Homo sapiens: one gene and its partners. The protein of the gene in region 1 interacts with the protein of each later gene in a pairwise test. Each region holds a gene or a part of one and is shown in the gene's direction. Other genes may lie near its edges.

What was found.
Region 2: the proteins of SATB2 (region 1) and FOXP1 come close enough for resonance energy transfer, tested with the Homo sapiens proteins (one study listed by BioGRID).
Region 3: the proteins of SATB2 (region 1) and FOXP4 come close enough for resonance energy transfer, tested with the Homo sapiens proteins (one study listed by BioGRID).

The regions. Positions count from the first base shown.
Region 1 is NC_000002.12:199,341,796-199,352,060, reverse strand, and holds part of SATB2 (DNA-binding protein SATB2), read left to right. Parts: intron 1-2,887; coding exon 2,888-3,360; intron 3,361-10,265. UniProt on the Homo sapiens protein: Binds to DNA, at nuclear matrix- or scaffold-associated regions. Thought to recognize the sugar-phosphate structure of double-stranded DNA.
Region 2 is NC_000003.12:70,961,651-70,971,915, reverse strand, and holds part of FOXP1 (forkhead box protein P1), read left to right. Parts: intron 1-1,110; coding exon 1,111-1,180; intron 1,181-5,859; coding exon 5,860-6,026; intron 6,027-10,265. UniProt on the Homo sapiens protein: Transcriptional repressor. Can act with CTBP1 to synergistically repress transcription but CTPBP1 is not essential. Plays an important role in the specification and differentiation of lung epithelium.
Region 3 is NC_000006.12:41,539,508-41,550,392, forward strand, and holds the start of FOXP4 (forkhead box protein P4), read left to right. Parts: upstream 1-6,873; 5' UTR 6,874-7,360; intron 7,361-7,953; exon of another isoform or gene 7,954-8,038; intron 8,039-8,870; exon of another isoform or gene 8,871-9,114; intron 9,115-9,339; exon of another isoform or gene 9,340-10,885. UniProt on the Homo sapiens protein: Transcriptional repressor that represses lung-specific expression.

The DNA.
Region 1 (10,265 bases):
TCTCTACTAAAAATACAAAAATTAGTTGGGTGTGGTGGCGGCATATGCCTGTAATCCCAGTTACTCGGAAGGCTGAGCACGAGAATAGCTTGAACCCGGGAGGCAGAGGTTGCAGTGAATGGAGATCACACCACTTCACTCCATCTTGGGTAACAGAGTGAGACTCGGTCTCAAGCCCCTCCCCCCACCAAAAAATGAAATAGATAAAATATTTCCTTATTAAGAACCTGAAAACATAATTTAATATCTGAATTTATCTTTACTTTGACTGAATTAAAAGCAAATAAACAAGCAAAAGTGAATCAAATATTTAACTGAAACCAAATATTTCTGTCTATAAAATAAGATTTTACTGTGGAATCAGTTCATGGTCTCTTTACCTTTTTTTTCAGTGAGGAAATTATGATGTTAATTCCTGTTCTATGGAAACTGTTAGATTATGTTATCTGAAGGCTCCTAACCATTTGCTTGGTTTGATTTTAAGACTATGTACTTTAAAGTTTAATTAATACAATAATTGAAAAAGGTTTGCCTTTAGAAGATGAGTAAAATAATTTGTTTTCTTAACCTTATGAAGGAAAGGTGATACGTAAAACAAATGAATTACACTATAAGGATTAGGCTGGGTGCAATGGCTGGTGAGGCTGAGGCTGGTGGATCACATGAGGCCAGAAGTTTGAGACTAGCCTGGCCAACATGGCGAAACCCCGTCTCTACTGAAAATACAAAAAATTAGCTGGGCATGGTGGTGCATGCCAGTAATCCCAGTTACTTGGGAGGCTGAGACAGGAGAATCACTTGAACCCGAGAGGCAGAGGCTGCAGTGAGCTGAGATTGCGCCATTGCACTATAGCCTGGGCAACAAGAGTGAAACTCTGTCTTAAAAAAAAAAAAAAAAAGCAAGCAAACATTGTAAGGATTAAGTTAGAAATTGAGCCCTAAAAGAAGTTGGAAGTAAACTCTTGACTTATTTGGAAGTTTATAGGAATGTTAAGCAAGAAATCGGGTTTTCTTTTTTTTTTTTTTTTTTTGGAGACAGAGTCTCGCTCGTCACTCAGGCTGGAGTGCAGTGGTGTGATTTCTACTCACTGCAACCTTTGCCTCTGCCTCCTGGGGTTCAAGCGATTCTCCTGATTCAGCGTCCCGAATATCTGGGATTACAGGCGCATGCCACCATGCCTGGCTAATTTTTGTATTTTAAGTAGAGACGGGGTTTTGCTGTGTTGGCCAGGCTGGTATCAAACTCCTGACCTCAGGTGATCCACCAGCCTCGGCCTCCCAAAGTGCTGGGATTACAGGTGTGAGCCACCATGCCCAGCTTAACTGAGTTTCTTTAAAAAGCAGGAAAAAGCACTGTACATGTCTAAATATAAGGTGATACCAAGACGGGTGTTCACATGTTTTCCTAATGGGATATTTTGCATGCATAAAACTTGTAGACATGGATATAAAATAGTTAAATATCTACCCACATTTTAATGTATTAATTTATTTCCACATATACATTTTTAAAGTCACATATTACATGAAGTATTAATTTAGAAATACTACTTTTTTCCACCCATACAGTTCATTGACTTTATTCAGTGCTTCACATGTGATTTGGCATCAGTGTCTGTCATCACCAACTCCCCTGTTTTCAGTCATCTCACCCAGTTGTCCAGCACACATCATTTCTGCCTAAATTTTTTGAGACTCAGTATTTTTTTTTTTTTTATAAAACCATGATTCTGTCACGGTTAACTATATGGCAAACCACACATTCCATTTGTATAATAGGGAGACAGTTACTTTTTATATGTGTTCTATAGGTGAATATGTTTGATCTCTAGCTTCTTAAAGTTATCTTTAATGGACTTTTGCATAGTCATATCCAGCATTTGCAATTATAAGAAATAATTTCTAAATTTGTATGGATTTTTTGCTTTGAAAAAGAGATCTTGTTAGATTATATTACACCTATAAGCATTTAAAACTAATAATGTTGGGATTGCTTCAGCCCCATTTCTTTTCTCCAAACCAAACTTTGTTTTTCATGATAGAGTAATACAGAGACTTGGATAAGGATTTGGCTATGAGGTGACTGTCTTTCCTAAGACATTATTTTAGGGAAAGAAAAATACTTGCCTTATGCTTGTATATATATGATACTTACTTTTCCCTTTCAAAGTTATTCTTTTAATCTTTATTAAAGCACAATATAATGTAATAAAGCAGATAACCTGAGGAGAACTTCATTTAATGGCAAGTTGAGGTGATGTTATTAATTTTGTGATTTTTTTTCTTATCTGAGTGCATAGCACAATGTTTAAAATATCAATTTCTTAAAGAAACATTTCTATAAAAAAGATAGCAAGTGAGTCAATAAATGGATATACTATGTGGCAGACATTTTTAAATGAACATTTCCATAGCTGTATAATAATATTTATGTGAGCTTTTTACTAGAAGGTAGCACTTAATTTGGCAGGAGATGTTATCCTTGTCATTTCCTGATAACCATTAACTACATACTACAGAAGATAGGAACAGCTGGTGCTTTTATAACAAAGGTTGATTGGGGAGATGATAGAGCTTGGGGGATCTAAGAGGATTTAGAATGGTCAGTGGTTTCTGTCTTGGCTATTTAAAGAAATGCTTACTTTTAAGAATTTTAACTAATTGAAGTGGCAAATAATTTTACTTTCTTTCATATGTTCCATGAAAAAAATCTATTGTAACATTTAGCAGAAAAGAATATCACTTTTATGCTGGAGCTTCCATCGTTGTATGAAAAAATGTTTATATTATTAACATGCCAAAAGTATGATAATTCAGTTCTACATATATTAGCAATAAATTGTACCAATGAAAATAATGATTAATTATCACTTTTATCTCTTAACAGTGGAAAGAGTGGAACGAGAAAACCTTTCAGACTATTGTGTTCTGGGCCAGCGTCCAATGCATTTACCAAATATGAACCAGCTGGCATCCCTGGGGAAAACCAACGAACAGTCTCCTCACAGCCAAATTCACCACAGTACTCCAATCCGAAACCAAGTGCCCGCATTACAGCCCATCATGAGCCCTGGTCTTCTTTCTCCCCAGCTTAGTCCACAACTTGTAAGGCAACAAATAGCCATGGCCCATCTGATAAACCAACAGATTGCCGTTAGCCGGCTCCTGGCTCACCAGCATCCTCAAGCCATCAACCAGCAGTTCCTGAACCATCCACCCATCCCCAGAGCAGTTAAGCCAGAGCCAACCAACTCTTCCGTGGAAGTCTCTCCAGATATCTACCAGCAAGTCAGAGATGAGCTGAAGAGGGCCAGTGTGTCCCAAGCTGTCTTTGCAAGAGTGGCATTCAACCGCACACAGGTACAATTAGCATTAAACACTGTAATTAACAGTAATACTGGGGACAGAATTGAGATAGGTTATAATTATTTTTATCTCTTTAAAAAGCTTTATGGATCTCAGGACATAGAATTAGATTAATTAATAATCCTTAGTTAATGAAACGCTATTACCATTGATCCATGCATGACCATGATTAATTAACTAATTGATTAATTTTGATGAGGTAATGGACATCTTTGAACCCAACATGCAACTCAGGACCCCAAATGTTACTAATGACTTGGGTATGTACTCTCTCATCCTCTCCATTTACTGTTTGCAGATGTAACCCTGATCTTGAATTTTGTGATTATCAGTCTCTTGCCATTTTTTAAAACAAATTATAAAACTATGCATGCCCAGACAATCTATTTTTTTCCCTTGGTTTTGAACGTTATAAAAGAAATAAAATTATGTTTTATAATTTTATAAGTAAAGTTTTATTTAAAAATTTATAAAAATCCTTCAAAACATAAAAGTTAGATTTAAGATATTGATAAAATGATAATGGATAGTTTACTTTTATTTTTAATGTTTGAGAGAATTATATGCCAATTATAACACTAAATGTTGAAAATGTAAACAGTTAATTCACACGTCTTATTTTTATTGAGGGTGCTTATATGTAAGACATTCTTTTCTGCTAGTAGTTCTTAAACTGGAGTGTGCATCAGAATCACCTGGAGGGCTGTGAAACACAGACTGCTGGGCCTCATCCCATAGTTTCTGATTGAGTAAGTCTGAGGTTGGACTCAGAAATGGACATTTCTAACAAGATCCCAGGTGATTATGATGGTACTGATCCGGGGCCGCATGTTGAGAAAAACTTACCTAGCCCTTATATGAGTAAGAACAAAGCAGATGTGCATAATCTCGGGGAGCTAACGATCTAGTGGTGAAAACCAGGTAACCAGATAATTAGAGTAAAATGTGAAGTGTTATGAGTAATGTTGGAGAGTGTAAGCAATAGTTGTGGTGGAGGTTCATGGTGAGCTGGAGGTGAGGAATACTTCCAGGAGAATGAATATGGTAAGCCTTCAAGAAAACAGTAGATTAAAATTTCAGCACCCTCGTAAATGCAAGGCAGGAAGCTAAGCTCTATGTGGGTGCAAAGAGGAAAAAGATAATGGGCAAGCACATATGTAAACAACACTCTAGAGTATTAGGTTGTCAATGGGTTAGACCTTGAAGGATTAATAAAGTACAGCAGGCAAAGATGATGAAGAAGAAGATTATTATTTTAAGGTAAAGACATTCATAGGAAAGATGTTGAGTTAAAAAATGCAGGAATAATTTGAAGACATAAAACAACTGATTTCTGAGAAAAACCCTGTGAACGTACAGAATGTAGGAATGCTTTCATTTATCTGATACCTGTTCAGAGACACATGATAACACACGCTGTAGATGGACCTTACAAATGAAAGAAAGCATGCTGGATTGAAACCTCAATAATTTGGAAAATACAGGAATGTTTCCAAATTTAATGATTACTTCAGAAGTTAAGGGGCTGGGCACAGTGGCTCATGTCTGTAGTCCTAGCACTTTGGGAGGCCAAGGTGGGCGGATCACTTGAGGTCAGGAGTTCAAGACCAGCCTGGGCAAGATGGTAAAACACCATCTCTACTAAAACAGAACAAAACAAAAAAATTAGCTGGGCGTGGTGATGCGTGCCTGTAGTCTCAGCTACTCAGGAGGCTGAGGCAGAAGAATCCCTTGAACCCAGGAGGCGGAGGCTGCAGTGAGCCGAGATCATGCCACTGCACTCCAGCCTGAGTGAGAGTGAAACTCCATCTCAAAAAAAAAAAAAAAAAAAAAAAAGTTAAGTGAAAACTCTCACTGGGGAGAAATCTGATAAATGTTGGTAAATTGGATTGCCTGATGCAAGTTAACACTCAAAAAATGCACCTAAGTGAAATGTTATACCAGTTATAAATATTTTATGTTTATCAGTGGTTCATTGTTAAAGAGGGTCTGTTTACTTTTGGTTTCCACGTCTCTTGCAAGAAAACATTGAGGTAAGAATTTTGTAGATACTCTTTAAGCAATACTGCGTGAGTTAAATAAATAGCGTTTTTGTTAAGTCAGTTAATACATTTTTTCTCTCTTTATTCGAAAGTGTGTTGGATCTCTGGTTGAATTGAAATGTATTTCTATTATGTAGGCGATTTAAATTTTTATTAGTTTTGAAATTGTCGTATGATTAATGAGTCATTGAAAAATGAGTTTTTGTGCTGGGTGCGGTGGCTCACGCCTATAATCCCTGCACTTTGGGAGGCTGAGGGTGGCAGATCACGAGGTCAAGAGATCGAGACCATCCTGGCCAACATGGTGAAACCTCGTCTCCACTAAAAATACAAAAATTAGCTGGGCGTGGTGGCGTGTGCCTGTAATCCCAGCTACTTGGGAGGCTGAGGTAGGAGAATCACTTGAACCCAGGAGGTGGAGGGTGCAGTGAGCCGAGATTGCGCCACTGCACTCCAGCCTGGCAACAGAGCGAGACTCTGTCTCAAAAAAAAAAAAGAAAAAGAAAAAAAGAAAAATAAGTTTTTGTTAATGGTTGGGATTTTCTTACTGGCCTCGTGGCAAGTTTTGTTATCTCTTATTATATATATTCTACCTTTTTATGGGAAAAACTACTCTTTTTGGTGTAAAGATATTTTTTATATTTTCTTTGCTTGTAAAGAGTTATTATCAATTTGTAAGTATAAAAACTGCAAGTATAGTTGGTAGTTGATAAGAAAGGTAGATAATAAAACTTAAAAGGGATGGACACAGATTGAAAAAGGCCTTGAGTGCCAAGACAAGAGCTCTGAACTTTAACAGGCACTGGAAACCGTCATAGGTCTTAGGTAGGAATATGCTGTGCTCCCACCATCTTAATTAGGTCTTATGGAGGTTTGATAGCAAGAGGGTAGGAATATCATTTAGCAGGCTACTGCAAGTATCCAGGTGAAATGTACAGAGGTTTTGAACTAGGCTGCTGGGGAGGGTGCAGAGAAGAAATATTTTGGAAATAAAATGGACAGAAAGTGTATAAATGGATAAAGAGAGGAATAGAACTGACACCAGGCTTCAAGCCTGATGCCTGAGAATAAAGGTGTAATTATGAAGGGAATCCAGGAAGACATGGAAAGAGTGGTTGGAGTAAGGTTAAAGTGATAGTTTTAGATTGGGTTATTTTGACGTTGAAGTGTTGACCAACTTCTTAAGTGAAAATGTGCAACAGTCATTGAAAATATGAGTTTGTGGGGGGAGGGGGGAGGGATAGCATTAGGAGATATACCTAATGTAAATGACGAGCTAATGAGTGCAGCACACCAACATGGCACATGTATACATATGTAACAAACCTGCACGTTGTGCACATGTACCCTAGAATAATAAAAAAAAAGAAAAGAAAAAGAAAATATGAGTTTGGCGCTAGGAAGAAGAGTTATCAGGACTAGAGCAAGAGATTAGAGATGTTGTCACAGAGCCTGGGACAGGAAATGGAAGAGTCAGGGGAGAGAAGGGGAGAAATCACTGCTATCACCACCACCAGCAGCAGCAGCACCAGCCCCAGGAAAGAGAGAAGAAATGCCAGGAGATGGGGGCAGGTGGAGAAGGAAGAAGAGGGAGACAGTAGTGAGAGTATAGAGGACATGCGTGGAGAGTTTCCAGAAGAAGACTTGTCTACTTGTGGAAAGCTGAGAAGTTAAGAGAGAGAGGCTTAAAACCATGTCATGAGATTTGGCAGTTGGTTGGGAGAAGACTGGCGAAGTTTAGAGTATAATTTCATTAAAGTAGTGGGGACAGGAGCCAGAATTCAGGAGTTAAAGAGTGATTAGCTGTTGAGGATGCAGAAGTAAGTACATGACACTTTCCAAAATTTGGTGTTGAAAGGGAGGCCAAAGTGGGTGGACAGTTTGGAAGTGATAGGGGGTCAATTTGAGATCACAGGATTTGGGAAGTTCACAGCATGAACTGGTGATGATACCAATCATTGTGGTTTGGTAACGGTCTTCAGCGGTGCTGGAACTTCAGGACTGGGAGCAAGGAAGAAACACAGTGGGACTGTTTGAGGTTTGGTGCTGACATTTTCGGTATGGCAGGAGGCCAAGAGAGGTAAAAATCTCTTGTTCCCTTGACTCTTAGCTAATTTATACATTCTAATATTGACAGAGTCTGTTAACATCACTTGAAAATGAGTTTGGAGGTCCTGAGAGACTCTCACATGTTCCAGACATCACTCTTCCACTTTCTCTCGTGATTCAAAGTACTCGGGCAATATTTGTGTGTCCATAGTTGTCTGGACTGGGGTTATGAAAGGCTCTGGTCCTTTTGAGAAAGTCTGTTGCATACTACTGCAAAATAAAAATTGGAAGGATCTATCTTTTGGCTCTGTATTTTGCAGTTCTCTGTCTCTGTGTGTGTGTGTGTGTTGTGTGTGTGTGTTCGTTCATCTGTCCTTCATGTGCATGAATAGGCATTTCATGGCTAGCCAACATTTTATTGCCTGGTTATGTATACAGCTCCTTTGGCTAAGGATAAAATTGAAAGCATGGTTGTATTACTTTGGATTTTAGAAGCAAATACAGTATACATTTTATCCAAGTAGCATGAAGCATGAGAGAAGACTCACAATGAGGCAAAACAAAGACAGACCATATTGGCGAGAGTGTATACTTTGCCAAGGACCTAGACTCCTGGAGGTCTGTCTTCTCCCATATAATCCTTTTTGTCTATTTTTATGGATTAATGATTTTTCTTTGGCGTTGCCATCTTTCAAGTGCCAAGTTATAAAAGGTCTAATTGAAGCATGAAACACATTTTATTATTTTCCTCCTGCCATTAAATTTGTAAGATGGCTACACCTAGAAAGAAACATTCACTTTCAATCAACATGAGCTTGAGTTCATGGGCCAGCCTTGAGGATATCAAATGGAAACTGCGTAGGAATGTATGAGTATTTCCTTTTAAAATTCTGCTTTTAATTTAGGAAAGCTTTTCATCCCTCTGGGATCATAACCTGTTGTGTATAAAGCCCAACCTAATCAAGGTAGATGGTACTGACAGAATGACATAGTTTGAACTTAAGCAGGAGGTCAGCAGGCAGATTGTTTTTTGCTGTATGTACTGTAGTCACTAACAGCCGGACTGGGCAGCTGGTTTTACCAGCAGCATTGTTAAATGGAAAATATGGTATATTATGCCCCATGAAACCAACCATAGATTTTCCAAACGTTTAGACTTTTTTGAGTGGAGTCAGATGTTTATGGATGATATAATGACTTGCCAGCTATAATAAACAAAAATAAACATTGTAGCATATCCTCAGTCTATTGAATATTTTCCAGAAATAGTTCATGATCTCTATTATTCATATATTATCAAATTCAATAAAAAGCATTTTAATACATTTTGTCACCTTATATTTTGTGTTCCTGGATTTGTGCTTCATGGTTATACCAAGAGCAAATCGTGTGTGTTCATTTTGTCACCTTATATTTTGTGTTCCTGGATTTGTGCTTCATGGTTATACCAAGAACAAATCGTGTATGTGTGTGTGTGTGTGTGTGTGTGTATAAAATAAAATAATATGTAAACATTTACAAATAAACCTGGAACTGTTAGAAAAGAAAACCCTGCCCAGTTTTTCATGTTTAAGATTTCCAGATGAAAAACTTAAATTCATAATAAATAACATTTCAAATGTCAGTTCTCCAAAGAGAAACTATTAATTACCCTGTTATGGCTGATTCATTGTCACCATATCATTTGATGATGTAAAATAACACAGTTAAGAGAATAGAGCCATATTTTCAAGAGCTTCTTTTTAGTTTATTTTTATTTTAATAAATATGTCTTTTAAGAATATAAAATGTATTTGTTTGATAAAATGATGCCCTATCCACACTTTATGACAAGGTCATGGCATCTGCTGGAGTCAGAGATAGACAGCCTTTTGCCAATATTTTATTATTTATTTATTTTTATCCTTACATTTCTCTTTTGGTTTGCTAACAGAAACATACATGGTCTAAACTAGGAACATAAAATTGAGTCACTTGTTCTGGGGTAGGGATACAGCACATTAGAGGTCATGCAATGCCAGGATATGGGATCTCCAGCATGAGCCTGAGACTAACGTGTTTCTAGACACAGGGTGTGGCTGAGCCTTGTGTCCTGTCTGTGCCATTAGGTCATTATGACCTTATGTAAAATAAGTAAAATACATTCTGAGTATCACCACTCTTTTTTTTTTTTTTTTAGCTAGTCTTTTGAAAGATGAGATTAGCCCTGCTTTCTGTCTCTGAAGACTTTTATGGCAAATGAGACCCAGTGAAAACAGTAAGGTGAAAGTGATAAGGCATTTTCTGACCTGGTCATTAATATTCAGGCAATCCCATGATACATTTCTAAGCACTTTAACCTGTGGCCACAAAGTGAGATGGATGATTTTACACTGGAGGAGCCTCAGGCAGATAACATCCCAGCTCTGTTTTTGATGCTCCCCCGCCTCCCCGCTCCCCGGCCCATGGTTTTACTTCTGAAAGCCTGCGTCTGCTGTTAGGCTTTTCCGTTAACATCTCTCCAGTTTGGGCTACTGATTTTCTCTGCTCATCCTGGCAGAGTTGGAAATGCTTACCACCATCTGATGGGTACAGGAGGATGACAACAGGGCAGCTCCCAGCCTCCTGTAGTAGCGACAGCTCTGAAGCATAACTTCCACTCCAGAGCGCTCTGCAGGACCAGGCTGAAGCTGGGACTTTGCTTGCATTTCTTCTCTTCCCTGTCCTGCTTCTCACACTCCCTCAGCAGTTTCCCTTGGAAGTCCATCTTAATAAATCACTGGTGTGGTAGTCTCTATCTGAGGATCTGCGTTTTATCCCAGATTATAG
Region 2 (10,265 bases), on another chromosome or scaffold:
CAGTGCCACAGCTTTCTGCAACGAAACTAAATTGTGTGATTTGTACATGTATTGCTCTCGTTTCTCTTTGGAACACCAGTGCCTTGAATAATGCTTTTTTGACGTCTTTAATGCAAATATTCGTTCTATTTTGATTCAGCAGCTTACGGGGACCCTAGAACTAAATACTTGTGCTTAACCCATAATCCCCCCTCTCTCCCCACCCCAAGTAAAAAGGGAATTTTTGGTTAGTTAAAATGTGTGTATATACTATTGGGGTAGATTTCTTATTTGTTCACTCACTATAATAATACAAATGTAATGAAGTGAATGACTAAAATGTTCCAAGCATAGTAAAGAAATAGGTCATATTGCATACACTTCCTTTAAAGACCACTGATAAATGTAGGTAATTGCCTACTGGGAGGCACCCTTTTCCCTCAGTATGCCCTATGTAATTTTTTAATATTTTTATCCTTACGAGGCTAGAGATTTTCTGACAACAGTATGTTAGTTTCATTTGGTCCGTGAATGGAGATGGCAGCAAATATTCTCAGACCCTCCCAGATCTGGCTAAGACATCCCCTTATTTAGGAACGACCCTCCCCTGGCATACCCTACTCTCCATCGCCTGTTGGCAATAAACGTGCCTTGTGGATATTCCTTAAAAGCCTTCCTGCCATCCCTCTAGCAGTCACTGTAAAGTTCAAATCTCAAAGATGCTTAGGAGCCAAGATTCTCTCTGCTCGTGCCCAGCAGCCCCTGCTGTGAGCTCACTGCCTTCCCCAGCACGACCTCCTAGGCTGCTGCCTTCCTTTCTGTTGGAGTCTGGAGTCAGGCTAACTCCTAAAAATCTGCAGAGAGGTCTCTGGAGGGAGGACCCAAGCCTGTTACTACCTAAGCCAGAATTTTACACCTAGTTTCCTTGAATAGAGAAGTCCAACCCCAGAGGTGTGCACACACACCCGCCCTGCAAATCAGTGACGGGGAGAAAGCCTGACTTTTCTTGGGTTTTGCTAGTGGGGGAAATTGCTCATTTGGAAGGGCACCAGCAAGCTTAAAACAAAACTTAGCTAGGAACTCAGCAGTCGACTGTGTTTAACTTTGAGTTTTTATGTTTTTCTTACACAGTAACCCTTCCCTTATTAAAAACATGCAGAGCAGCCACGCCTACTGCACACCTCTCAATGCAGCTTTACAGGTAAGATTAACGGCCGTCCCGAATATGCAGCAGAGGCACAGGTCTCCCCTACTCATTTCAAAATATATTAGCCTTGCTCTAATTAGATATTAAATTTTAATTCCGTTAAACTTTTTTCTTAAGTGCACAAAGCATCATACTCCCTGGAGGCAAACACATCGGGCTGCTTCAGCGTTAGCGGGATGCTTAGCATTTTGAATATTGTGGCAAAAAAATTAAAAGTTCACTTATTAATATTTATCAGCAGTATCATAATTTCCATCCTCTTATTTCAGAATTTCACTTGAGGCAAAAATACCACAAGTGTAATTACTCTAGCACAGCTATTAATGTGCTGGATGATAGGCCACTGCGTCACATGACCTTCTATTGTTCATGGGTTTAAAGAGAAAGCAGGGCTTTGTATTTCTTTTTCTTCTTTTAAAGTCGACTGTAGCATCTTGGCTTTTGTCTGGGGTGGGGAGGATCTGGGGTCTGGTTCACTTTGTAAAAGTAAACCATGTCTGTTTAAACAATAGAGGTGTTTAAGAAGACTCTTTAGTTTTCCTGCAGATTGTTCAAGATTACATGATAATCACACGGAGTATTTATTTCCTACTGACAAACCAAGTACTTGTTACATCACCAATGGTACCAGGAGATGAAGACGCGGGTTTTGAGCAGGAGCGAGATTACCACCCAAAAAGGAGCTACCTGAGGCAGCCCAGCTTCTAGCAAACTTTTTACATGTTGCACATTTCAGTTCTTAAATGAAGGCTACTCCAGTGTCATTTCATTAAAGTACCTGGGTGTAGTACTCAAGTCCCCCCTCAAGAGTTCATAAGTAAGCAGTATCCTTTTGGCCAGTGGTCCTGTTTTTGCCCCTACCCAGACTGTTCGAGAAGCATATTCTATAGATAAATCTGACATTTGTCATCCAATACCATTGCAGTCCTCTGCAGCATACATTCTCAATGGGGGCTGTATCACCCCTAGATTGGTTCTGAGATACTGCAATGTCTTGTGTCCTTCCAAAGGACCATAATACTTGAGCAAATATGAACATTTCTTGGGGTGAGGGCAGAAAGAGAGAAACAAAAGTCTAAAAAGGGACAATAATGAAAAAACAGTTGAGACCTTTAGTATGATGGGAACAGGATGAGGAAGGAGGAGATACTGACAGGAGCCCTGGGTCTTGCTCTGCATTAAACAGATATTTATGGACATTAAACAGATATTTATGGAGCACGACTCTGTACCCTACAGGCCCAGAATAGTCTTAAGGCTCCTGGGAATTGATGATAGGCCATTTACCCAGTTTCAGTTTAGAGGCAGATTCACTGGCCTTAGCATTTCAGTAATTATATTTATTTATTTTTAGCCTGAACCAGATTTAATAGGAGAAACTACTTTCTGCGTTTCTTTTAATTACTTGTAGTTTACACAGTAACTTTAGAAGAGTAAATGAAAGCATGCTTCGATGCTGCCACTGTAAATACCATTCATTAGTAACTTATTTTCCCTGGAGTCTTGTGAAGTGTGAATTTAAAGCCTGCTCTATCTGGAATATGGAATAGTATTAAGATTACAAGCACATTTTATATTCATGAGCCGGAAAGGCAAAAAAAAAAAAAAAGTGATCCTCCATCCTCTGAATTCTCTTAACTATGTGACTAATTTCAATTAGTATGCTTTGTCATTACAGAACTGTTCAGGTTTCATCTCTGAACATTTGCTTTTGGCATCTTCTTCAGTAGCCCAAAACTGTCCTGCCGTTTTCCAAGAACACTTTCCGTCCATAATGAGGCAAGGGGAATAAATTGATACAAATTCATGATTTGAGAAGTGGATTGTTTCCCTCTCTTCTACGAGTTTGGATCCCTGATCAGTAGACAGACACATAAGACAACTTTCTACTGTGCAAATTAAATAAGGATTCTGCCAGCAGGCCTTCCTTTCCATTACCGCCTATTTCCATTTTTCAAGACAAGTAAAAATAATAGTGGAACAATATCTTCAAAAAAATTACTAGAGCAACATAATGCATGATATACAATATATAAAATAGGACAGCAGAATCCACTACAGAAATAAAACATGGGACTTGGGACAGATTGCATTATGCTCTGAAAAGTGAAGTAACTAAGGGTAACCGTAAAGCTTCGTATTTATAGACTGCCTTTCCCCTGAGGATCTCAGAGTGGTTAATGTTCCAGGAGCGAGGGTGCTTATGGACTTCTGCACCATTACTTAAGCAACTTCATTTTTTGGCAGAGGTGCCAGCTTGATATGAAACCACATGCTGTGCAAGGACCATTTATATAATTAACTCCATTTTTGTAACACACCTGCTTCTAAGTGGACATCAACTACCAAAAAAAAAAAAAAAAAAACACTTTGTTAGGCAGAAGCAGTTAGTGAAAATTTATCTAACCTTGGGTGGGTTGCTCTGATCACTTGCTTAACAGAGAGCGTGTTCAAGAAGCTCTCTTGCGGATCAGGCACTGGGATCTCTCTGCAGCCCATTTGATCATTTTTTCAAGGGACAAGGCTGGTTTTCATCACTTACATCGTTCTTGCCTGAGAACCCAGGGATCAGTATAAGTGCTTGCCTTTGTATGCGTTTCACTACTGTGGCTGTTGGGTCTCAGCCCATGTTCTATGATCCAATCCCAATCAGCAATGGCCTTGACCTAGAATACTTTGAGAGCCAAAGAGAATAAATACTCATCCCAAGAAAGTTGCCTTCTCTAGAGGATGACAAACTCATCCCAATGAACACGTTCATATCAGCATTTCAATTTTGTCTTCACAGTTTTTGACCAGGGAAGCTGCTAAAATAATTAAGCTAGCAGCAGCCCCACTTTTGCCACATTCTGACCTTGGAATAGTGAAATTGTCTTATGAGAGCTTATCTTATGGTATTTCCAGTGGAAAGACACTCAGCAGAATTTCTGTGACTGAGACAACAGTGGTCACACCTCTCTCAGATAAAAGCAGTTAAGATGCTTGTCCAACTGCAGTTTGCAAAAAAAAAAAAAAAAAACAAAAAAAAACAAAAAAAAAAAACAAATAATAGTAGTTCTGGCAACTGCTCTGCCAAAAAAAAAACAAAAAGAAAGAAAGAAAAAAAGCTTTATCGCAATTATAAAAGAGCTGTTGGAAAAAGTACTTGATGCAAATTATTTGACACACTGTAGGAGAGTGTGGAATGTTCACATTTGCTGTTCATCAAAATGAGTTCACCACATTTGGAAATAAACACAGGATTTTCCCCCTACTTTTTAAAAGAAGGCAGTTATACACATTTACAAGTAGAAGGAAGGAAAAGCTGTGGGCTTACATAGGGCCGAGCTTTGAAACAGTCCATTATCCAATGCTGTGTTTGGTGAGTGTGCACAGGACTTCTAACACAGGGCTTGTACCTAGAAAGCCCTGGCTTTGCGGTTTGTACAGTGAGTGAGGCTGCGATTGTCATACTAGCCAGACAGATTTCTGCAGCCCAGCTTTGCACTCTTTTGGCTTTTACTTTCTTTCTAGAGCCAGGATTTCTAGAATAGTTCGGACTCTTGTATGACTGGCCAGTGGAAGTCACTATGCCAGATCATCTTGTGAAAAGAAGTACATCTAATGTACTTTTCTTCTCATTAGGATGGAAAAGCAGGCATAGTCTAGTCTGCAGGAGGACAGTTGTGATAAATCTTGGTTTAATTACAGCTGCCAGTTTTTGAAAGTGTCCTCTTTAATGAAATGAAAAGTCAGTGGGTCGTAATCACCACCTGGATGAAACAAATTTTTGGGTACCTTACTTAGTCCAGTGGTATATGTAACTAGCGTCTGCATTTCAGACTTGGTGTCCCTTTTATTCAAATGCAGTATAACAGGAAGTGAATAATATCCTACCTATCCTAAATAAAGTTTAGGATTTCTTCTTTTTCATTTCCTCACTTTTTTGCTGACACTCACGTGGAGTAACTTTGTAACCTTTAATATTGATGTACTTTGGCACCAAAAATAAATATGAGTTAGAGCTTCCCTTTGCCAGAGTTCTTTAGTCCTAAAATCCTAGGCAATTGGTCGGACTCTGAAACACTACGTGGTGTTTCCTTCAACCAGTTATCTCAAACTGCACTAAACAGATTCAAAAATCATTAAAACAGAAATGATGGGAGGAGATAAAAAATTGATTCCAATTCTATAATCTCTTCCTTTTCTATAGGATCTAAGAGGTAAATGTTTATGGAAGTTCTCATAAGTTTGAGCGGTGCGGCCAGGATAATCTGATCAAAATCTCTAATATCCAATACTGGAGTCATCAAAATGGATAAAGAAATAAAAATTCTATTATATTTCACTGTGATCTGGAAATATTCAGCTCCTCTTAAAAACGCATCCGACATAAACCTCATATTCGAAAGCCCGTCTAAACCATGTGACTACCAAGCAGGACCAAATTGAGTCCTTCCTACCCACAGGCACTTGGTCCCCCCTGGCCCCCAGTTAGCTCTTCAAAACCAAGCTTGGGACAGGTGCCACGAGTCGTTTTTAAAGCAAAATCTTTCAACACCTCTTAGAAACTTGTATTTGCCAGCCATGCTACAATTAACTCAAACTGAAGATTATCGAGTACACCCATAATTAGTAGTTTCCTTGTCTTACATACCCTGTGTCTTCATAAATTTTCTCTTGGTTGATGACAGGCTTCAATGGCTGAGAATAGTATACCTCTATACACTACCGCTTCCATGGGAAATCCCACTCTGGGCAACTTAGCCAGCGCAATACGGGAAGAGCTGAACGGGGCAATGGAGCATACCAACAGCAACGAGAGTGACAGCAGTCCAGGCAGATCTCCTATGCAAGCCGTGTGAGTATTGTCCACCCAACAGGTCTTTGCTATCTGACCCTAGTCTCCCTAGGTACACGCAGGGAGACAGCCCTTTCTCTGGGCTTTATATACCTTTTCTGTAATTTCTGATTTCCCAGAACCAAGCTAGAAGTTTGTACTTCAAGAAATGTTCAGCTTGGTTAGTGCATAAAAGGACTATTTGCTAACTTTCCCATAAAAGCAATTCACAGCAATAAAATGAGAAACAGGTTTGCTTTTTTTCCCTCTGCTTTATCACATCCCAGGCCATTATTTAAGCCACACTACTTTTTCCTCCTCAAACTAATATGCATTCCTATGAAAAAGTTTGCAGTTTGTTCAACTTTCGGGCATGTTGAACCTAGCCGAGAGAAAAAGATGCTTGTTTACTTGGTGGTGCACTAAGGTTCACCACGAACACGCCGCCGCAGCATTATTACCAACCATTAATGATGGCACAAATGAAAGGCGGCATGATTTATAGATTGCTCTTAAAATATCAAAAGGAAAATTAATAGGAGCATTATAGCAGCAGACGGCAGTATAATGAGTGCACATATAACTGAATGAAGTGATGGGCGATGGCTGCCCATGCTGAATGTGAATGGAACCAGGACTGCAAACCACAGGAAAGGCGGAGGCCAGGAGACTGTGATGCCCCTGTGAGTGGGTGATGGGAGAGAACTTGGTGTAACTATAACACCCTCTCTCCCAGGAAAAGTTTTCAAACAGAGCGAAGAAACCACATTATTCCAAATGATTGGCTTTGCAGGAGATGCTGTGGGATGACAGTCTCTCCCTTTTAGTGAGGTTCTTCAAAACTGTTGCCCACTTTAAGGTACTAACCCATTTCGTGTTTGCAGTACTGTCAGTTCCTAGAATAGGCTGCTTGTCTACACATTACTTCTGAATTACTGACCAACATCTTATTTTAAGATAATTTAAGTGATCGGAATGGAAATTATGACCTGTAACAATTAGGAGCATATGGAATTGGCATCTAATGACAAAGAAAAAAGTGTTATCTGCCAGCATAATTTGGAGGGTACGTGGAAATCTGAAATTTGATTTTCTAGCATTTGAGTTTCATCTCCACAGCACTTCAGAAAGGATCTTTACTATCCTTTCTGGATATGGAAATAATCATTTTTAATTTATATGAACAGTATCTTAGCATTTGCTTCACAGCATTTTAAGAGTGTGTTTATCTTTCACACTGATGCTGCTATATTTCATCCTTTCCAAAGCAACTTAGTGTTTCCGATTTTCCTGTTACCACATTTGTATTCATCTTAAATCATTGTCATGACACGAGTATTTACTTAGATACTAACGAAGTTCAGAGCAAACGTAAATTGGTATAAGCTACTGCAAGAAATACTCAGAACAAAAATGTCTGGTTATTGAATGGAAGTGATGCTATTTCTCATAATCTGTACAAACTCCAAGTTTTTGTTGACATATATTCCTATTAGTATAAAGAATCACTAAAACAAAGAGATACTTGGATACAAGCCACAGGCACCAGTTCAGAGTGATGCTGATTTTGCTGTACGAAAGAAAGTCACTGCAGGGTTAATTTGTTTAACAAATTTGAATTAACCCCAGTATTACCCAAACCATGTTTTACAATAGTCTTTGTAATTTTTGATGAAATGAAGGTTTCAACTATTTTTTACAAGAAACCCTACACAAAAATGTCAACATGCGTTGCTCAAATCTCACAGGTTTGTGCTGTTTGCTAAATGTAATTATATGTCAACAGCAGATTCCCTGCGCCTGCTATCTGTGTAATAGACTGTTACTCTTTTTGACCTCATATTTCCATTAAGAGAATTCTGTAGTGACAAGAGTTTCCATTCTTGTCCAATATGCATTACCCTGCTATGATGCAAATTGTTTTTCAACTGTTCCAGTCTATTGGAATAAATCAAGCCATAAACTTTACGGCACGGCTTGAAGGACCTTGTTAGGAAGGCGGCCTAGCTAATATTGAGTGTTGAAACAGAACTCTTCATTCTTACCCTTTCTGTGACAGTCAGATACCACTACGTTTCGTTCGTCCTTTGAAACACTAGAAAGTGGTCACATAATTATGGCTTTGGGGCATTCTACTTTTATCCTGATAGGCGCTAAAGGAGCTACAAAGCAAAATACTCCATGCTGTGCAGACACCCCCAGAACACAATGCCTTTAAACGCCAGTCAGCTTTATTTTAAAACTCTTGTGTTCCCAGAGTGGCTAAACAAAGGAATTACTCAGATGTAAGGAGAAGGGAAATGTGTGGTTTTGCACACAGTTATTCAGCGGTAGCCCTTTCGGAAGTAGGAGTTGGAGAGAAAGGGTGGGGGCAGTGTCTGCAAGGAGAGGAAGGTGCATCATACACAGCCCTAACTTCCAGGAGACACGGTGAGTGTATGTGAAGTGTAGTGTCTTCAGTAGTCTGCATCTCATCTCAAATGTATCTTTCGTGGAATCCCATCCTCTTTTGTTCTTTGAAGTGCTGTGTGCTTGTGCTACACGTTTGCCACACCCCAGGGGTATCTGCCGGCATCAAGAAATGTCCCGAAATCGGATTTCACTTCTCTAAAGTTTCGAAACCTTACTGTCTAACCTGGTTGTGTCATCAGGTGGTCACACAGTAGATCTAGCCAGTTAACATTTGTTGGGGACCCACTCTGCATCCACTCTGCATGAGGCACTGGGAGTCGAGCCTACAGGCATGACAGGATCATTACCTCTGTCTTGTGGATAGTAAATAATCCTCATGAATTTTGGCTACCAATTTAGGGGGAAAACGTGTTTTGTTTATTTGTTTTTTCACTTCTACAGCTTTTAAAATTGATACCTCGTAACTACATATTTTGGGGGTACATGTGTTATTTTGATACATGTATACAATGTGTAATGATCAAATGAGGATAATTAGGTAAACGAAATATTCTCTGATGTTGTGAACTGTGTTTTGTGGGGCTTTACATGCACCTGATTTTTTGGATAAGGTTAGCAAAATATTGGTCAAAGTCTAAAATTATACAGCAAGAACTTCATTAAGATGGAGATGGATGGTTCTATTTCTTCTAGGGGTCCTCATCCTCCTTCCCCCTCCCCAAGGTCTTGTATGATCTTACATTCTTCTATCATTCAATTCTGGGTTATAAACATGAAAAGATTGATAGACCTGATAGTTAAGAAAGTAGGAAAATGTTGATTTGGAAAACAACATTTGAACCTCAATCAGCATATAGCTAAAACATAAATTTCAGTAATTTATGAAGTTGCAGTTCTCAACAATGAAAGTTTGAAACAAACATTAGGAAATGTTCACCATTGTCAGTAATCTGAGAAACACAATTTAAGGTAACCTGAGCTTACCTTGTACCTGCTAAGCAACAAAATATTTTTCACAAATAATGCTTGCTGCTGATGAGATTGAGTTTAAATTGATAGCCCCTTTGGAAGTTAATATCACAATAAATCATAGGAACCATAAAGATGTTTTGGCCTTTGCTCTAACAATTCCATTCTTAGAAATTTATCCTAAGGAGGTAAATCAACAGAAATAGAGTAGAAAGATTAATGGATAAAAGTGGTCATTGTATTATACAAACAGTAAAAGAGAAAGAGAAAGATGATCCTCAAATGCCTAGTATTCAGAAACTGACATATGTCAACACAGTGGAATCTCATCTAGCCATAAACATTATAAATTGTAAAGCTAGGAAAATTTAAAAAATAGCATTCCTGCTGAATTTACAATATTTAAAAATATGACCTCAAATGGAAACAGATTGGCAAAAATAAGAAAACTGGCCTTAACTAAGGGTTTGTGTTTTTTAAAGGAATCATCATCAGCATAACTAATTCTTCCTAAAAGAATGTAGGGTATTTTAGCAGAGCTGGTTCACAGGTGTGTGACATGCAGTCACATAGGATCTCATGCCTAAAAGGACACTGCACTTGATTTTATGTGCTTTTATTACCTTTTTATTTAGAGATAGGGGTCTTACTGTATCACCCAGGCTGGACTCGAACTCCTGGGCTCAAGTGATCATCCTACCTTAGCCTCCCAAGTAACTTGGACTACAGGCACACACCACCATGCCTGGCATGTACTTGCTTTAATGCCATTTTTGTCTTGAAATTTTAATTTTTGAGCCAAAGACCCCAGATTGTCATTTTGCACTGGGCTTCCAAAATTATGCAGCCAGTCCTAATTCTTACTGCTGAAACACTAAT
Region 3 (10,885 bases), on another chromosome or scaffold:
CCTAAGTCAACAAGCAGAAAGGGAGCCAGAGTAGAGATGAGAAGAATGGGGAGCACAGCCCTCTGAGAGAAGGGGATGGCTCTGAGGGAATGAGAGTCTTCCTTGTCCCATTTTCTACCCAGGTTTCCCCCTTGACCCTAGCTAGCTCTTTCCTTGCGATCACTGAAGACACAGTTATTACATATGTCCTACAACATGCAGCTGATACCTGCAGGACACCAACTTGCCCTAAAGCGTTAGGCTATTTTTTGTTTTTTAAACTTTGCTCTAAAGTATCAAATCATAATCAAATCAATATGCATGTACTGTGCAGCTACCTTGCAAAAGAAATTAAGCTGGATGCAATGAGAAATCCCCAAATGACTGAAATTGTGGGTCCCTAAATTAAGGAGTTTATTATCTAGTTGGAGAAATGAGGCATAAAATGGCTAAACAGTTAACAAACAATAGGGTTTGTTAAAAGTTACTGGGAGCTTATTAAATAAGTTAGCTAACAACACATTATAACATCAATGACATAGGAGTGCTAAAGAGCACCTGGAAAGAGGCAGAAGTGGGCTGGGTTAATCAAGAAAGAATAACAGTAGCTATAGTCTATCCAATGCCTAAACTGAGAAGAATCCTACATGAGCCATACTTGTCCTCACGACCTCTCTGCCAGAGTCTCATTTTTCTTCCCATCTTGCAGTTGAGTAAACTAAGGTTAAGCCCCTTGCTTCAGGATTTGGGGCTAGAAAAGTGACAGAATTGAGACTTAAATCCAAAAGTCTTCAAGTGGATGGAAAATGTGGGATAGCTCTTAAAAGATAAGGAAGGGCCGGACGAGGTGGCTTGCACCTGCAATCCCAGCACTTTGGGAGGCTGAGGCAGGAGAATTATTTGAGTCCAGGAGTTTGAGACGAACCTGCGCAACACAGAGACCCCTTCTCTACCCGGGCATGGTAGCTCACACCTGTGGTCACAGTTAATCGGAAGGCTGAAGTGGGAGGATCAGTTGAGCCCAGGAGGTTGATCACAGTGAGCTGTGATTGCACCTCTGCACGCCAGCCTGGGCAACAACGCGGAAGCTCCGTGTCCAAAAAAAAAAAAAAAAAAAAAGATGAGGAAGAACTAAATGAAGGAAAAAGGAATTCTTTTCTCTGTGCCCACTCCTGGGGCTTCTGCTACCCTCATGCATCCTCCACCCCATCCCCACCCCCATGGGTGGGGTGCATGGGGGAGGGATAAGGCACTGGGTCTGCTCTCTTGGCCCCTCTCTGTGTGTCCTGCTCTCTTCCTGCACAGAAATCCCTCCATGTAGGGATCTCATTTGACCTAAAGATGCTGTGTTCCAACTAGTGGGAAATTGCTCACTGCTTGTCAAGCTATCGCTTATTTCCTGATCTTTAATGACTGATTTTCCACCAATCAGCCCAAAGTCCCATGCCCACCACCTTTTGGACAAGGCCTGAGTCTCTGACTCCCTAAACGTCCCAGAAGGAACTCCAAATACCTCCAAGGGCCCAGGCACCCGGTCAGCCTGGCACCTAGAAGGACAAGCCAGCCTCGCCCCAGTCCTGGGGGCCCTCTCCTCCACAGCCCCTGGCACAGCTACCCACACTACCATGGTCATCTACTTGGGGCAATATGGTAAACTGATAAGCCTCCCCCAGAGGTAGGAGCCCCGCTTAAAACCGAGGAAGCCTAGAGAGTGCCTTGAAGGTTCCTGGCACGGTTCATTAAGATGTCAACCCCTAATGAAATATTTCTTTCTTTAAATCATCATTGATCTTGGGGAAGAGGAGCCTTTGTGGAAAAGGAAAAGGCTGTCCCTCTCCTATCCCTCCCTCACCTCCAATCGGCACAGATCCTAGGTCTTTCCCAGTCAGAAAGATTGGGAAGCAGGGAATGGAGGAACAGTGGGGAGATGGGAAAGGGAAAAGATTATGGAGCAGAAGAACCACAGGGGGAAGGAGAGGCACAGTGGGGAGGGAGGTCACAGAAGGAAGCCTACTGCAGCAAGGAGACCATAATACCCAAATATCCACTACAATCGAACTGCCCCATCAGTGGGAGGCTGGGTAACAAAACAAGATGGGACACACTGATATGGTAGAATCCTCTCCAGCAGCCTCTTAAGTAAGTGACCTAGAGACACACACAACACATGCAACAAACATGTAGACATTCATCTCGGCAGCATGAAGTTCAGCAAAACACAAGTAAAAACAAGGAGCAGGCTACCTTTCATTTAAAATTTTAATTGCTTCATACTTTACTATGCCCCAAAAGTGAATAAAAATAAATAACTAAAACAAAAGAAAATTTTGAGATACCCAAGCAATACCAAAGGAGTAAGAGTAGAAAACTTACTTGGGAAGGCCAACTTCAGAAAACCACAAGGGAAGGATGGAGAATGGGAAAGAAGGAGAGTCACAGAAAGGCCTATATTAGCAATGATTTTTACATGTTTCACTTTTAAGCATAAAATGTATAGCTCAATTAATGTTTACAAAGTGAACACATGCATGTAACCAACTCCCAAATTCAAAAAGACCCCCAGAAATCCCCTTGTGCCCCTCCGTCACACCCCCACCTAAAACAGCCATGCTCCTGAGTTTTAATGCCATCAATTCATTGGATTGGGTTTTGAATTTCCTATCAATGGAATCAAACGGTGTTTTCTTTCGTGTCTGGCTTTTATGCTCAACGTTGGATTTGTGAGATTCCTCCATGTTGTTGCTCGTGGCAATGGTTTGCTCATTCTCATTGCCAAGGACTAGCCCACGGATGAGAAGACCGTGGTTTAGTCACCTATTCCATTGTTGACAGCTGTTGTGAATAGTGAGCACATGCGAGTAGATGGCCTAGCATTCTGGTGTATGCCTTTTGGTGAACATATGTACATATGCATTTTTATTGGCATATACTTAGGAGTGGAGTGGAGTGGAGTTACTGTATTATGCTGATAAAGTGGGTTTTATTTTTGTTTTTTGTTTTTTGAGACAGAGTTTCGCTCTTGTTGCCCAGGCTAGAGTGCAATGGCACGATCTCAGCTCACTGCAAGCTCCACCTCCCATGTTCAAGCGATTCTCCTGCCTCAGCCTCCTGAGTAGCTGGGATTACAGGCATGTGCCACCACACCTGGCTAATTTTGTATTTTTAGTAGAGATGGGGTTTCTCCATGTTGGTCAGGCTGGTCTCAAACTCCCAACCTCAGGTAATCCACCCACCTGCCTCGGCCTCCCAAAGTGCTGGGATTACAGGCGTGAGCCACCACACCTGGCCTATGCTGATGAAGTTTTATTCCTCAATAACTAAAAAATAGTTTTTGGCCAGGTGTAGTGGCTCATGCCTGTAATCCCAGTACTTTGGGAGGCCAAGGCGGGCAGATCACTTGAGGTCAGGAGTTCGAGACCAGCCTGGCCAATATGGCAAAACCCCATCTCTACTAAAAATACAAAAATTAGCAGGGCATGGTGGCATGAGCCTGTAGTCCCAGCTACTCGGGAGGCTGAGGCAGGAGAATTGCTTCAACTCAGAAGGCGGAGGTTGCAGTGAGCTGAGATTGTGCCATTGCACTCCAGCCTGGACAACAGAGTGAGACTCTGTCTCAATAATAATAATAATAATAGAAACATAAACTGTCTGGGCTTAGGTTTGTTGGGACCATGGGAATGAAGCAAATGTTTCTAGATGTACACACCACTACCACCCCAACCTACTCCTGAGTATCAGGCCTGCTGCTAGGAACAAGCTCATCCATCAGCCCACTTCACCTCCACAATAGGGTGGCGGCTGACCTTGGGAAAGGGCGTCTGCTTCAAAGCAGGAGACCTGGGAGCAAGTCCTCGCCACACTACTTCCTAGCTATGTGAACTGAGCAAGTCATTTGACCTCTCTTAGCTTCACCTGCAGAAGAGTCACCATTGCTGGGGTGATAAGCTGAACAGCACGTTATTCGACTGCCTGGCAAGCATTTAATAAGTGGCAACTCATGATTTGCAGTTTTGTGAGGTCAGCATTCGTCATTTTAAGTGAGGACCCTGGAGCTCATCAAGGGGAAAATAAGTAATTATGGAAAGCATGTGAGGAACACATTACCAGGCTAGAAGTTTTGCCCATCCTCCCTCCCAAACACCCAAGGAGGCCTCCCAACCTCCCAATTGATGAGTGAGGTGATGAGTGAGTTAACTGAGACTCAAACATCATGTAACTTGCCTGGGTCACACACTGGTTAAGTGACAGACGCTGAAGTTCAACCCAAGGCTGCCTGACTCTAGCCCCTGTGCTCTTAACTATGGCCCCCCTGGAGGGGCCAAGCCATGAGCCTTGGTTCCGGCCACCGCCAAAGCACCTGCACCTGCCCTGAGTCCTGTGAAGGAACAAGGACAGAAAGAGGACCCTCCTGCCTGCTCCCGGTCACTCCCACTTTGGAGCCAAGGGCTACTCTTTTCAACCTTCTTAACGAAGCTCTTGCACCAGGAAGAAGGGCTTTGGACTGGCTTCTTTGATTTCGGGGCATTTGTTCTGTATCTTTCTTTGGGGAGGCTTTGTCTTCCTCGCTAAAATGCCCTTTAGGTGAAGACAAGACAGGGTCTTTTGATGCCTTGAGCCCCCACTGTAGCTCACAGGGAGCTGGGAACTGAACTGGCCTGGAGATGAGGGGTAAACTGAACTGAAAGTGAAGCATTTCCCAGGGCAATCCCTCTGGGCAAGTGAGCCCATGTGTAAGGTACAAGGGCTGCTGCAGGAAGGGGATGGGAAAAACATTCAGTGAACCAGCCAGAAAAGGGCTGGAGAAGCCCCTCGGAGGTCACCTCATTCAATACCCCCCTACAGAAATTCTCTCTTTTGTCTCCAAAGCCCCTAGTTCTCACCCCACCCTCAGCCTTTGCTGCAAGAAGGATAGGAAGGAGAACTGAGGACATAGTCACTGGCCCAGCTGGTCTGACACAAGGACTTGCCACTCCAGGCTTGGCCTAGGGCTGTCCACACACCATGATTTCCACCAGAGCTGGGCCTCAACAGAAGGTAAATCAGATAGTACTACCAAGGGCTTTCTTTCTCCCAGAATATCCTTCCCCTCAGCTAACCCACAAGCAGGCAGTGTCGCTTCAGAGACCACCATGAGCTTCTTTCTTGTCCTCACTGAAGTGGCTCTAGTTGGAATCTGGCTCATCACTGACCAGCAGCTGTGTAAGCCTGGGCAAGTTACTTGATCTCTTTGTGCCTCAGTTTCCTCTTCTATAAAATGGAGATAATACAAATATCTCCCTCCTGGGGTTACTGTGAAGATTAAATGGCTGGTGGGTGGTACGACTCAGATGTTAGCTGTTATTTTATTCTTATGGCTATGGTTATCTCAGTTGCCACACTGGAAAGGACACTGAGATATCCACATAAATGGCACTTAGAGTCTTCCCTGCACAATTTCACACCTAGAAATCTAAAACGCTCCAGCAGGACCTAAGTATGCCTGTCCCACCTGCCCAAAAAGGCAAATACATAAAATGTGGACCTGTGCAGGTGTCACTAACATTGCAGAAAAGGGACAGAAGTGATGAAAAACAACCCAAGAGGGTGCCTCCTCTCTGAGGTCCCCTTTTCTTTCAAGGACCACTGGAACGGCCAAGAAATCCCCTCCCCCCAGGCAACTAAGCATCAATCCTTGCAGCTCCGACCCCACACCTCAGGCTTCCAGCTCCCACTCCACAGGGGCTCACATACTATGCCAGCCTCTTGTCCACCTGCCTGAGGATTTAGGGCCAGGAGAGGCTTCAAGAGCCACTGTCTTCTTGTCCTGATCCCACAACAGGATCCTCCCTTGGTCATGGGGACCCGGCATCACTGAGCTGGGTTGGGGTACTTCATGAGGACCCCTGAGGCCTCCTTCACTTCTCCCCACCCCCAACACATGCAGACAGATGGGAGATGTTTCCGGCGTGTGTGGGGCGGGGAGGGGGACGGGTATTGAGATTTCCACGGGACTCTGAGTGGTGCGTCTGCTAACAACACAGCCCTCCCCCTTGGGCCGTGGGCATTTCCTCACCCAGACCTCCCCCTCCCAACCCAAACACACCATCGCCGCCACCACCACAATCCCTCCAGTCCCCCTGGGCAAAAGCGATGTTCAGAGACGCGGGGTTTTGTTTACAATCTAATTTGTCCGGATAATTGCCTCAACTTTGCACTTCACTTTGCCCGCATGGCTCTGGCCTTGGGCCCCTTCTTCACTGGTTCGCAGAGCACTTTACGGGAAATTCCCTTTCCGCAGAGGGAGGCAGTGCGCGCCAGGGGGTGACCGTTCACAAAGCCCTGAAGGGGCCTCCCCACCTTCTACCCTCGGCTCAGGAAGCCCACCCCCAGCCCCCACGCAGTGGGGAGCAGGAGGGAGGCCAGACAGGGCCCGGGCCTGACACTGGCTCCGTCTCTGGGCCCCCGGCCACTCCCCGCGCCGAGCGCAGCCCGCCGGGAACCAGTGAACCGTGTGGGATCAGGACTTGGCCGTACCTTCAGACTCCAGGGGATGGCCGGGGTTTGCAAGCGCCCCATAGGATTAGTCCGAGGCCAGGGTGAATCCCTGGGGTCCCTCCACCTACCATCTTTTTCAGATCTGCCGCCTCACGTCTTCTCCCCACGTTCCCATTTTTCCTCCCCTAAAGTTTGGTGCACGTGGTTTTCTCTCGCTCTCAGCGGGCTGCCAGGCGGGGTGAAAGTTGCTGCACCTGCTTTAGGCGAATTATGGTAGCACTAGAAGTTGGTCTCCCCTCCCTCCGCCGCTTGCTCTCTCGCTCCCTCCTCCCTCGCTCTCCGCGCGCTCCCTCCTTCCCTCTCCACCCTCCTCCTCCCCCGCCCCCTCCCGCCCCGCCCGCGCGCCGCCCGCTCGCAGCCACTCGCAGCCCAGGCTCAGTCGCAGCCCCTCGGAGTCCGGAGCCCGCCGTCCCTGCGGACCGGACAGTGCGGCCGGCGGCCGGCGGCCGGGACGGAGCCCCCAGCCCGCGAGGAGGGCGCGGCGCAGGCGGCGGCGGCGCGGCGGGGAGGAGCCCGGGCCGGAACCAGGGCTGGGCCGGGGGCGGGGACGCCGGGGTCCGGGAGCCCGGGAGCCGGAGCGAGCTGACGAGCGTCGCGGAAGGACCGGGAAGGAAGAGCGGAGCCGGAGCGAGCCAAGCAGCCCACAAAGTGCCATGCCCCGGCGGGGTTGAGGCGCGCGGCGGTCGGCCCGGCGCGCTGGGAGGACGCCCGGGAGCTGCGCGACGCGGGGCGGCGCGGAAGGGCAGCCCCGGCGGGCGGCGGCGGGCCCGGGCTGCGACCGGAGCGAGCCCCATGCCCCGCGCGGGCTGACGGGCCGGAGCCCGCACGGAGCGGCCGGGCGGGACAGGTAGGTGGCGGGTCGGGCCCAGGGACGTGGGTGGGGGCTGGGCGGGCGACCAGACCAACTCCCTCGCTCGCGCACTCTCTCGCCCGCTCGCTGGCTCACTTTGTGTTTGCAAACTGCCCGCCCGAGACGCGCTGGGCGCCGGGCGCCAGGAGGAGCCGGGCCCGGGCCGGCGCACTTTGTTCCAGCCAGGGCCGGCCGTGGCGCACTGACCCCGCGCAGCCGCGACATTCCGCCCCTGGCCCGGGCCCCAGCGGGCCGGAGCTGCCTCGGGAACAGGTGGGGGCTGTGGCGCGGCGGGAGTGGGGGCAGCCGGAGGCCGGGGCGGGGAGGGGGGCGGCCGGAGAGGCCACCGAGGCCCGCCCTTCCCCAAGAATCTGGGCCCCGCCCCCTCCCCGCCGGGCCTCTGGGAATGGGGTGTACGGGGGCGCGACCCCCTCCCCGCCCCGAGTCAGACAAAGAATACTTCCCGGCCCAGACTTTCCAGAGCTGGGAAGGGAAGTGGCTCCCCCCAACTCTAGTCGGTACCGGACTCCCCAGGACGCGCCGGAGACAGATGAAAATGGGGGCAAGAGAGCGGGGGATCGCGGTCCTACCCGCCGTGTCGTCTCTGGTGAAGAGGGGACTTGTCTTGCTGAGGTCGCACCTCGGAAGTGCCAGGGCCAGTCAGCCCCTTTTCCATCGCTCGGTCAGCTCGGGGATAGAGCGGAAAACTTCTTGGGGACTTGAGAGCGTCTGGAAATGGCCCCTGTGATTTGTGCGCCGGAGGTGGAGGGTGGGGAAACGATCTGGCTGACACCTCTACTCACCCGCTGTGGAGAGAGCTCCCGCTTCACCACTTAAGGGGGGAAGAGAGGGCGGCCACGGGGGCCCGGAGGCCACCAGGGAAGGAGCCCGGAGTGACCGAGCAGGACCCCCCCCCGCCCCAACTGAGGAGTCTGGTATCTCCCCTGGACAACCCCAGCACCTCTCTGACCGGCGGCGCTTCAGCCTCGGGCTCCTCATCCACGCCAAACAAACTTCCTTGGGCTGCGTCAGAGCACAGCCAGTGGCGCTAGAATGCGACCTGGGGTCCCGGCCGCCCCCATAAAGGACCGGGTAATTTCGCGGAATGCGGATTTTGAGACAGGCCCAGACGGCGGCGGATTCCCTGTGTCCCCCAACTGGGGCGATCTCGTGAACACACCTGCGTCCCACCCCGATCCTAGGTTGGGGGGAAAGGGTATGGGAACCCTGAGCCCAGAGCGCGCCCCGCTCTTTCCTTTGCTCCCCGGCTTCCCTGGCCAGCCCCCTCCCGGCTGGTTTCCTCGCTCACTCGGCGCCTGGCGTTTCGGGCGTCTGGAGATCACCGCGTGTCTGGCACCCCAACGTCTAGTCTCCCCGCAGGTTGACCGCGGCGCCTGGAGCCGGGAATAGGGGTGGGGAGTCCGGAGAACCAAACCCGAGCCTGAAGTTGCCATTCGGGTGACTCCCGAGAAAGCCCGGGAGCATTTTGGCCAATGCGGGTTTTTACCTGAACTTCAGCATCTTCACCCCGGTTTCGGAGACCTGCCTAGATTCGTCCCAGCACGCACTGTTTCGGGTTCGGGATTGAGGGTTAGGGCAGCACACACAGCTTGAGGGGCAATTGTTAGGACTGGCCCGAGTGCCCGCAGAAAGAAAGAGCAGCGGGGTTGTCGTATGGCCTGTAGCTGCGGGAAGGTCTGTGCCGGTCCCACTGTCGAACCCAGAAGCTCACTTTCCACAGAAAACCAGGGCTGAAGGGCCCCCTGACCGCCATGCCCTGCGGGCACCGGGCATTTTGAGCTCTCCCCCACCCCCTCCCCCTGCTGCGAACCAGCCGGTAGGTGCAGGGGCCGAAGGCCAGGCCCAGTGGACCCAGCCGCCTGAAGGGGAGCCACGGCCTCAGAAAACCTCTGCCCGCCCCCGCGGAAAACCGCTGTGGGGAAGTCTGAAGGCCTTTTTTTTTTTTTTTTTTTTTCAACTTGAGAAACTTTTGCCTCGGGGTTTTGGGGCTCTGTTACCTGGTGGCTGGAGGGAGGATACTGGGGCTCTGCTCTTGGTACCTGGACAGCTTGTTGGCTCCCATGGTGCCCTTTCGATCTGAAACTCAAAAAACTGTGAGTTGGGGGAGTCACTCACACTCTAGTCAGTGGGGCAAGGTGGCAAGGGGAAGAGGTGGTTTTGTGGTTGCCCCCTCTCAGCCTCCACACCCAGGGCCAGGGTGAGCGCTGAATCTCTCCTGCGGGACGGGACCCTCAGGACCCACTTTATCCTGGCTCCAGCCTTGCTACTAAGTTTGGGAGACCATGGGAGCCTTCTCTCCTGGCACCAAGGGCTGGGCGCCTGGGTGGAGTTTTCTGTCCTTCTCCCTGTCCTGGACAGGTTTCCCAGGAGTTACGGAGTTGGGGAACCCCTGAGCCCTGGAGAGAGAAAGACCTGACCCCAGTGCTGGAGAACGCCAGGGCCAGAGCATTTGCAAAGGGTCCCACTTGCAAAGGGACCTGCTCCTGTCCCTTTCTGTGTAGGGATCTTCCTCACACCTAGACGCCCCCAGCCCCCTTCCTCTGCCTTTAGAGCCGAAAACTTCCGTTCTGGCTGTAGGCAGGTAGGTCCCTTCTTGCCAGGAATGTGCATATCCTGCTGGGCCCCTACCCCAAACATACCTCTTCCTTGGTGGGAGGGAAGCAGAGGGACTGGGAGAGGAAGGCTTGCTTTTGATCCAGTAATTCCCCCAAATGTTTGCTGAGCCCCTACTCTGCCTGGGCAGGTCCCAGGCTGAGTACTGGGGTACCCAAGCAGTGAAGGCTGGGGTCTGCTGTCTGGACCTCAGATTGTTGGGGTAGGAGAGACAGATATCACATGGTGGGGGGGAGGGTGGAGGGGAGAAGAATGGGAACAGGGTGTCTGTTTCAGAGGAGAGTTGTGAGGTGCAAGGGGAGGGAAGGGTTGTCTCCCCAGGAAGCCTTCCCTGCATCTTAACCCTTCCTACCCCACTGCCTTGGCGGTTTCCTGTCTCTCCAGCCACAGTGCAAGCCCCCCAGTCCCATCCTAAGCAGGCACAATGTCTTTATTTTTTGAATAGCCTAAACTGTGTGAAATAATAATTTCTTCCATCCAAGAAACTCCTCACAGTTTCCCTTCTCACAGATCTTACCACGCTCCAGCTTCCCTAGACCAAGGCAGGGCAGGTACTATTTTTGACAGGACTCTCAGGCTCCGTTGGCTGGAATGACCTCCTCAGATTTGGTTCCAGAACTCTGGAACCCAGAGCAAGGAACTGAGGCCTCCCCAGGGCAGAACATGTGTCAGAGTGGAAAAGGCTTTGGAACTTGGCATTAGAGATGGGACTCTGGAGAACTTAATTAAGCTCTTCGAACCTCAATTTTCTTACATTGTAAAGTAGGTCATAATACCCACCTTAGAGATTCTGTTTGGGAGTTAGATGAGAGAGCAGATGTCAAGTACCTTGCACGGTGCCGGGTGCATGGTAGTACTGATCAAGGGATGGCGTTTATTATTAATTTG